2 linked regions of the Homo sapiens genome follow. The protein of the gene in region 1 purifies or fractionates together with the protein of each later gene. This does not show direct contact. Each region holds a gene or a part of one and is shown in the gene's direction. Other genes may lie near its edges.

Region 1 (3,815 bases):
CCACTTAATCTACTGCAGTCAGCATGAAGCCTAGCTCTGATGATGGACAGAAAAGCAGACAATTACTTACAGTTCCCATGGTAGATAAAGATAGATGCACAGAGAACGTAGAGGAGGGAGTCTTTCATTCTGACCCATCAGAGTCCCACGAGAGGGTCAAAGGAGACTGCAAAGAATGTGACATTTCAACAGGACCTGACTGAATAGAAATTTCCCGGGTTGAGATGAACACTTAGTGCAGACAGAGGGACCAGGGAGAACAAAGGCATCGAAGCATCAAAGTTCACTTTGTGTTGAGGGAACATTGAGTGGCTCAATGAAGCTGGAGCATCAGGAAGCACAGCGGAGGAGTGGGCAGGGGAGGGAGAAGCGGAGGTGGCCAGAAGGAAAGGCGGGGCCAGGTTGTGAAGGGGCCTGGATACTCTGTCCTGAGAGCCAGGATGATTCCAAACAGGAGGGTGACAACAATATGATTGTGGTTAGCAGAAATGCTGTCAGGAGTGTGAAGGCTGAATTCCAAGGTGACAAACCTGGAGAACTGGGAAAGCTGTTCAGAGGCTATAATAGTCCAAGGGAGAGATAATGGGGTACCCCACAAGGCCCATGGCCTTGGGACTGAAGAAGAGGGAACAGTTTTGAAAATCAGTGAGAGGCAGAACTGGTTGGATTTGGTAATCCCAATGTGAAGGGTGAGAAGTTGGAATAGCTGAAGATTTCTAGCTCTATAATGTTACTGAACTGCTCAAAAGCCTCAATGGCTCCTCCCTGTCCTCTGCAAAGAAAGTAACATCCCTGGTCTGTTGTCCTAGTTTCAAGATCTGGCCGGACTTGACATGACTCTTGTTCACACACTCCAGACAAGCCAATCCACTCCTTATTCCCCAAACAGGTCCTGGGATTTCTGATCCAGTGCCAATGCCTTTTGTCCTCATCTCCACATGTGCAAATCCCTCTTCAGTTCAAATGTCTCATATGTTGTAATAATGGCAGTTGATAGCGTTAAGTACTTGCTATGTACTAGGCACTGTTGTACCTACTTTACATGTGTTAACAATCTTGATTGATGTAACAACCATGTGAAAAGGGTTAGCCCATTTTACAGATGAGGAAAGTGGGGCTCAGAGGGCCCAATGCCTTGCCCAAGGTCACAGTGATCAGTGGCAAACACCCTGCTGTAAGTCACTACATTATACTCCTTCTCTTGGGCCAACTTGCCCTATTTCTATGCCTCTGTGCCTCTGCCCACTCCCATCCCTATGTGGTGGCCCCATTGCCCTTTAATCAGTCTCTACAGAGCACTGATTACTTTCTGTCTTGCACTTGAGTTGAGCCCGCCTCTGCCCTGGCTGCAAACTCCTTAATCAGAATCAATGCTCAATCTCTCTCAGGCATGGGACGTTACTCACAGGAGCTGCTCAAGTACTAATTGAATGAGTAAATAGTGCTGGGTGATGTGGGATAAGGACCGGGCCTGCTTCTAGGGCCCTACACGGTTTGGGGAGCTTGTCTTCTCTCCCCACACCTGTTCATACCTCTCCAGGTCCCTGGGTGTCCTCCCCAGATGATGACTTGCAAGGCCAGTTTAGCCAAGATTTGCCAGCACAGCCCACATGCTATGTTGTGACAATTCAGATATGTCTCCCCTACTAGAGTGAACTTGTGTGGACCAAGAATGAATTTTGTTATTGCACATAAAGATAGCTACTATTTACTTCTAATAATATCTGAACAATCTGCCAGACATTGTGTTTTGCCCTTTACAGACATTTAAAAAATTTAAACCTTATACTAAGCCTATAAGGAAGAGATTTTTTAGGGCTTTTTTTTTTTTTTGCAAATGAGGAAACAGATTCAGAGAGGTTACCTATCTTGCCCAAGCCCTCACAGTAAGAAACTATTAGAGGTGGGAAGTCCAACTCCATAGCACACATCCTTCCCAGGCTCTCCTGGCACCTAATGGAGCCTGGCCCAGAAGCATGATCAGGGTTTGTTGAATTGAATGAATGAAAATGAGTTGTGCTGGAGAAAATCATGTTTACTCCACAATTCAGTATCATAGACAGAAAGAAGGGAGGAGCTGGAGGAATCCCCCTAAGGGCATGCTCCTCAGAGACCTCTAGGGATGGGTGTCAAAGTCAAGGCCTGTCTGTCTCCTAACATCTTTGGGCTCATCTCCAGGTTCGCTTTGTGAACAGCACATGGATATTTGGGAAGGGCATGTGCCATGTCAGCCGCTTTGCCCAGTACTGCTCACTGCACGTCTCAGCACTGACACTGACAGCCATTGCGGTGGATCGCCACCAGGTGAGGGCACCTACCCCTAATGCTCTGCTCTTCCCTCTCTTGCTTCCCTTTCCTGGAAGTTGCAGGGGCTCTGAAGACAGTGTTTTAGCCCAGTTTTCAATGAGTGTGTTTCTCTTCTTATTGATCAACATGAACACATAGGTTAGGGATATTAAGCCCTTTGTCATAATTTTTTTTTGAGACAGAGTTTCACTCTTGTTGCTCAGGCTGGAGTGCAGTGGCACCATCTCGACTCACTGCAACCTCCGCCTCCTGGGTTCAAGCAAATCTCCTGCCTCAGCCTCCTGAGTAGCTGGGATTACAGGTGCTCGCCACCACGCCTGGCTAGTTTTCGTACTTTTAGTAGAGATAGGGTTTTGCCATGTCGGCCAGGCTGGTCTCGAACTCCTGACCTCAGGTGATCCACCCGCCTCAGCCTCCCAAAGTGCTGGAATTACAGACGTGAGCCACCATGCCCGGCCATTGCTGGCATTTTCTGTCTCAGAAATTAGTGAGCTTGTTTGAGGATAGAAAAGCAAACCCGGAAAATCACAGATGAAAGGAGAGAGGAGTAATTGCAGGTCAGAGATGAGTGAGAGATGAATATTCACCAATTCAGGCTGTTCAGACGGAAAACAAGCCAGGATGTCCAGGTGGCAGGAGCAGGCATTGCAGTGGAGCATGGTGGCCCTGGGTCAGGAAGATGTTCTAATAGTTCTGCCCCCATGGGAAGCTCATGGGTATATATGGTGAAAGGAACTGACCAGGACATCAAAGAAGGACAGCTTCATGCCAGGTGCCTTTTCCATGCTTACTCAATGAACTCACGTTGTACGCTTAGACCTACGCTGAATTATAGAATGGAGGCTCAGGAAAGTGCATATGTAGCTTTTCCGAGATCATGTGCCTGTGAATGGTGAAGCTAGGATTAGGACTGAGGTCTGTCTGGCTCCAAGCCCATGTTCCAGTCACTAGACCATGCTGCTCTGAGAAGACTCAAAGGAATCTACAAGGCCAGTATTATGAGGGCCACCAGACACAGAAAGATGAGATTTATTCTGAGTAGCACCATGAGATGCAGCAAGGACCACGGGATAGGAGGCTTCAAAGATGCAGATTCAAAGATACAGTCCAATGTGGGAAGAATTCTCTCATAGAAGTGTCTAAAGGTGGACAAACCTGCCTGGGAGGTAATGAGTTTCATGTCACCAGCCATATTAGAGCAAAGTGAGGATGACAACTTGATGGGGAGGTATTCGAGGAGATTCCAGCATCTGGTAAGGAATGGGACTAGTCAAAATTTGAGATCTCTTTATCTCTGAAATGCCAGAATTTTGTAAGAATCAATCTTAATTTATGTTGCAGATGCTTTAGTGTAAAGTGTGAAAAGTTTGCATATAAATATTTCCTGCCTTTTCTTAACCATCTCCCTTAATTTAACTAGAAGGACTTCTGATTACTTTTACCTGGCCTATGCTTACCCCAGATTAACGCAACTGAGCATTGACCATGGGCTAAGGATGGGTCTGGGG
Region 2 (3,815 bases), on another chromosome or scaffold:
CTTGAGGGTGCCCAGTGGTGAGTGCATGCCCTTGTTGGGCTAGTGGCTCAGCTTGGAGATAGGGTACCCCGTCATTTCATTTTTTTCTACTCTTGCCCACTCACTTGGTTTGACGATAAAGATGCCTTTTGGATGTTCCCGAAGGTGACAAAGGCTGGGGTTTCTCAGCAGTTGCTTTTGTAGATTAGAGGGTGAGGAAGCAGATTTTCAAGTTAGTCCCAGAGGTGCCCGCAGTGTTTAGAGTAGTGGCTTAGCAGCCATAGGCAGCGGTGAGGAGTGGAAGAACCAGGCAGGGATTCCCACGGGAGGATGTGGGACTGATCCAGAAAGAGATGGCCCCAGAGCCGAGCAAAGGTGACTCCTCAAGGGAGGATGATGGTTAGATGTGAGGAGGGACCAGAATAGGAAAAGGCCAGTGACCAAAGCCGAGAAACACCACATACCATCCTTTTGCAAGCCTACCATTCAGGAGGCATTACTGTGGAGCCCACAGGAAAAGGAGAGAAACTAAAGCAGAGCTTAGAGGAGCTGTGGGAAGTTAAAGGGCAGAAACAGGCATCTGTGTAGGGGCCTGAGGCGGGGATAGTACCACGAAATGCGTGAGGTGACAAAGTGGGTTGTGGGTTTGACTGTGGAAAGAGGTGCCTTAACTAAAGAAGTTGGGCATTTGAGAGCATCTAGGCAGCAAGACTAGCCCAGAAGATTAGAGAGATCAAGGGAGCCTGAACACATCGACAGGGAAAGGGGTCTTTTTCACTCTTCACTTTGAGGGGGGTGTTTTTACTCTTTCCCTTGTTTTTACTTCTCATTCTTTCCCTCTCCTCTCTCACTTGACTCAGGTCACCTCAAGGAGCCTGAGCACCCGTCCATGTGGGGCCCGGTGGAGCTGGTAGGCATCATCGCCGGCCCGGTGTTCCTCCTGTTCCTCATCATCATCATTGTTTTCCTTGTCATTAACTATCATCAGCGTGTCTATCACAACCGCCAGAGACTGGACATGGAAGATCCCTCATGTGAGATGTGTCTCTCCAAAGACAAGACGCTCCAGGATCTTGTCTACGATCTCTCCACCTCAGGGTCTGGCTCAGGTACCAAGTTCTTCAGGGCATCATGTCTGTGGTTGGCTTTCATCAGTTTCCCAGCAGGATAGAGTGCTTGTAGAGAAGGCTGGAGGCCCTGCATTTGTTTCTACCAGCATTGAGTCATTTGGTTTCCTAGTTCCCCTTCTTTTGGAGTCTGACGTGTAATAAGATAAGATAATGGGTTCACAGAAAATCTCTCATTCCGTGGGATTCCCAAGGTCTAGTACACAATTATCCACTACAGAAGTCCTGCCTCTCTAAGCTTTGCAACTGTACGTACATCTATTAAAATTCAGCTGGTCCCACCTGAGCAGTGGAGTGCTCAATTTCAGGGCCCCTTTTGAGAAACAGGAGTGTGCCAGATTCCTGTGAGGTGGTGACAGCTAATCATTGATCTCTGAGCAACCACAAGGGGAGTTTAAGGACATCCAGTAAAGCTTAGAGTTGGGATTTGGTGAATCATTGACTTGTACCAGTTGCCCAAGGGTTTTTGGTGGGGGTGAAAATAAAGGCAGTGTGGGCCTCCAGCATAGCATCAGCACTATTTCCTGTACTGCCTTTTGTTGACCAAGTCTTTCTCAGATGAGGGAAATGAACCAAACACTGGACCTTGGCATAAGACGAGAATTTAAGATAAAGGAGCTCGGGGTTGTTTAGGTCTCAGGGTATAGCTCAGCTAGCTATTAAATGTGAACATGAATGCAAAAGAATTTTTTTACTTACTTATTTATGTATTTATTTATTTAGAAACAGAGTCTTGCTCTGTTTCCCAGGCAGGAGTGCAGTGGCGCAATTTCCGCTCTCTGAAACCTCCACCTGCCTGGTTCAAGTGATTCTCCTGCCTCAGCCTCCTGAGTAGCTGGGATTACAGGAATGCGCCACCACAGCGACTAATTTTTGTATTTTTAGTAGAGACAAGGTTTCGCCACATCAGTCAGGCTGGTCTTGTGTTCTTGACCTCAAGTGATCCGCCTGCCTCGTAAAGAATTTTTTTAATGAAGATAAACCATTATTTTTGTGACAATGGTATTGCATTCCTTTTTTTTTTTTTTTTTTTTTGTTTTAAGATATGGTCTCGCTCTGTTGTTGCCCAGGCTGCAGTGCCATTGTGCAATCACAGCTGACTGCAGCCTTAACCTCCTGGGCTCAAGAGATCCTCCACCTTAGTCTCCTGAGTAGCTGAGATGTCAGGCATGTGCCACCAAGCCTGGCAATTTTTTTTTTTTTTTTTTTTTTTGTGGAAGGTTTCACTTTGTTGCCCAGGCTGGTCTCAAATTCTTGGCTTCAAGTCCATTCTTAAAAAAGAAAAAAAACATCCACAAAGATCACTGTTGCCATTCTAGCTAAAACGCAGAGGATCTTATTTGTGAGAACTTTGCGTGTTTTTATGTATGTTTCCTTGACGTGGGACAAGACTGTTGTTCTGTGGGGAAATTATGCCATCAGTCATGCCCAGACATTCTGCTTGACACGGGAGTACTTTGAGCTGTGACATCTCCTGAATTTCAGTGGCTTTGCTTTTATTAAGCTCTGCAGTAGAGAGCACCAAAATGATGGATATATTTAAAAGCTGCATATTTTTAGAAACAGCAAAAATCTAGGGCTTGTTCCTTGTTGAAAGAGGTAGGGCAGTGGTTAGAACCTCCTGGCTGACTGTGGGAATTGATTTGCTGCTAGAGGAGGGTAGATTGGGTTTTCCAAAGTCTTTTTAAGACCCAGACCAGCTGAAACAAGGGAAGGGCCATGGTAGTTGTTTAGTCGTCTGTGGTAAAATGGTTAATAACTATTTCCCTCTGAGTGGTTTAGTATATTCTTCATTCAGAATATGCAGAGCTTCCAAGGTGTTAGGTTTCTAATAATGTGGTTTTTAAAGTAGTAAGTCCATGCTGCTCATATGACTTTCAATTCATTTAAATAAGTATATACTGAATACCTTCTGGGTGATATGGTTTTAAACAGATTAGAAAGAGCCTGACCCGGCCAGGCGCGGTGGCTCACGCCTGTAATCCCAGCACTTTGGGAGGCTGAGGTGGGTGGATCATGAGGTCAGAGGAGATCCAGACCATCCTGGCTAACATGGTGAAACCCTGTCTCTACTAAAAATACAAAAAATTAGCCGGGCGTGGTGGCGGCGCCTGTAGTCCCAGGTACTCAAGAGGCTGAGGCAGGAGAATGGTGTGAACCTGGGAGGCGGAGCTTGCAGTGAGCCGAGATCACGCCACTGCACTCCAGCCTGGGCAACAGAGCGAGACTCCGTCTCAAAAAAAAAAAAAAAAAAAAGGCTGACCCAGGATTGGATCAGAGAGACAGGAATTGTTGGGAAGAGTCTCACAGAGGAGGGCACATTTAAAGGAGTCTTGAGGCCGGGCAGATCACATGAGGTCAAAAGTTTGAGACCAGCCTGACTAACATGGTGAAACCTCGTCTCTACTAAATACAAAAAATTAGCCGGGTGTAGTGGCACACGCCTATAATTCCAGCTACTTGGGAAGCTGAGGCAGGAGAATTGCTTGAACCCGGGAGGCAGAGGTTGCAGTGAGCCCAGATCATGCCATTGCACTCCAGCCTGGGCAGCAAGAGCAAAGCTCCGTCTCAAAAAAAAAAAAAAAAAAAAGGCCAGGCACGGTGGCTCACACCTGTAATCCCAGCACTTTGGGAGGCCGAGGCGGGTAGATCACCTCAGGTCAGGAGTTCGAGACCAGCCTGACCAACATGATGAAACCCCCATCTCTA

Evidence for each region.
Region 2: the proteins of GPR83 (region 1) and ACVR1B purify together in Homo sapiens (affinity purification with mass spectrometry; one large-scale study listed by BioGRID and IntAct). This does not show direct contact.

What each region holds. Positions count from the first base shown.
Region 1 is NC_000011.10:94,394,888-94,398,702, reverse strand, and holds part of GPR83 (G-protein coupled receptor 83 isoform 1 precursor), read left to right. Parts: intron 1-2,178; coding exon 2,179-2,304; intron 2,305-3,815. UniProt on the Homo sapiens protein: G-protein coupled receptor for PEN, a neuropeptide produced from the precursor protein, proSAAS (encoded by PCSK1N). Acts through a G(i)- and G(q)-alpha-alpha-mediated pathway in response to PEN. Plays a role in food intake and body weight regulation.
Region 2 is NC_000012.12:51,975,488-51,979,302, forward strand, and holds part of ACVR1B (activin receptor type-1B isoform a precursor), read left to right. Parts: coding exon 1-17; intron 18-839; coding exon 840-1,088; intron 1,089-3,815. UniProt on the Homo sapiens protein: Transmembrane serine/threonine kinase activin type-1 receptor forming an activin receptor complex with activin receptor type-2 (ACVR2A or ACVR2B).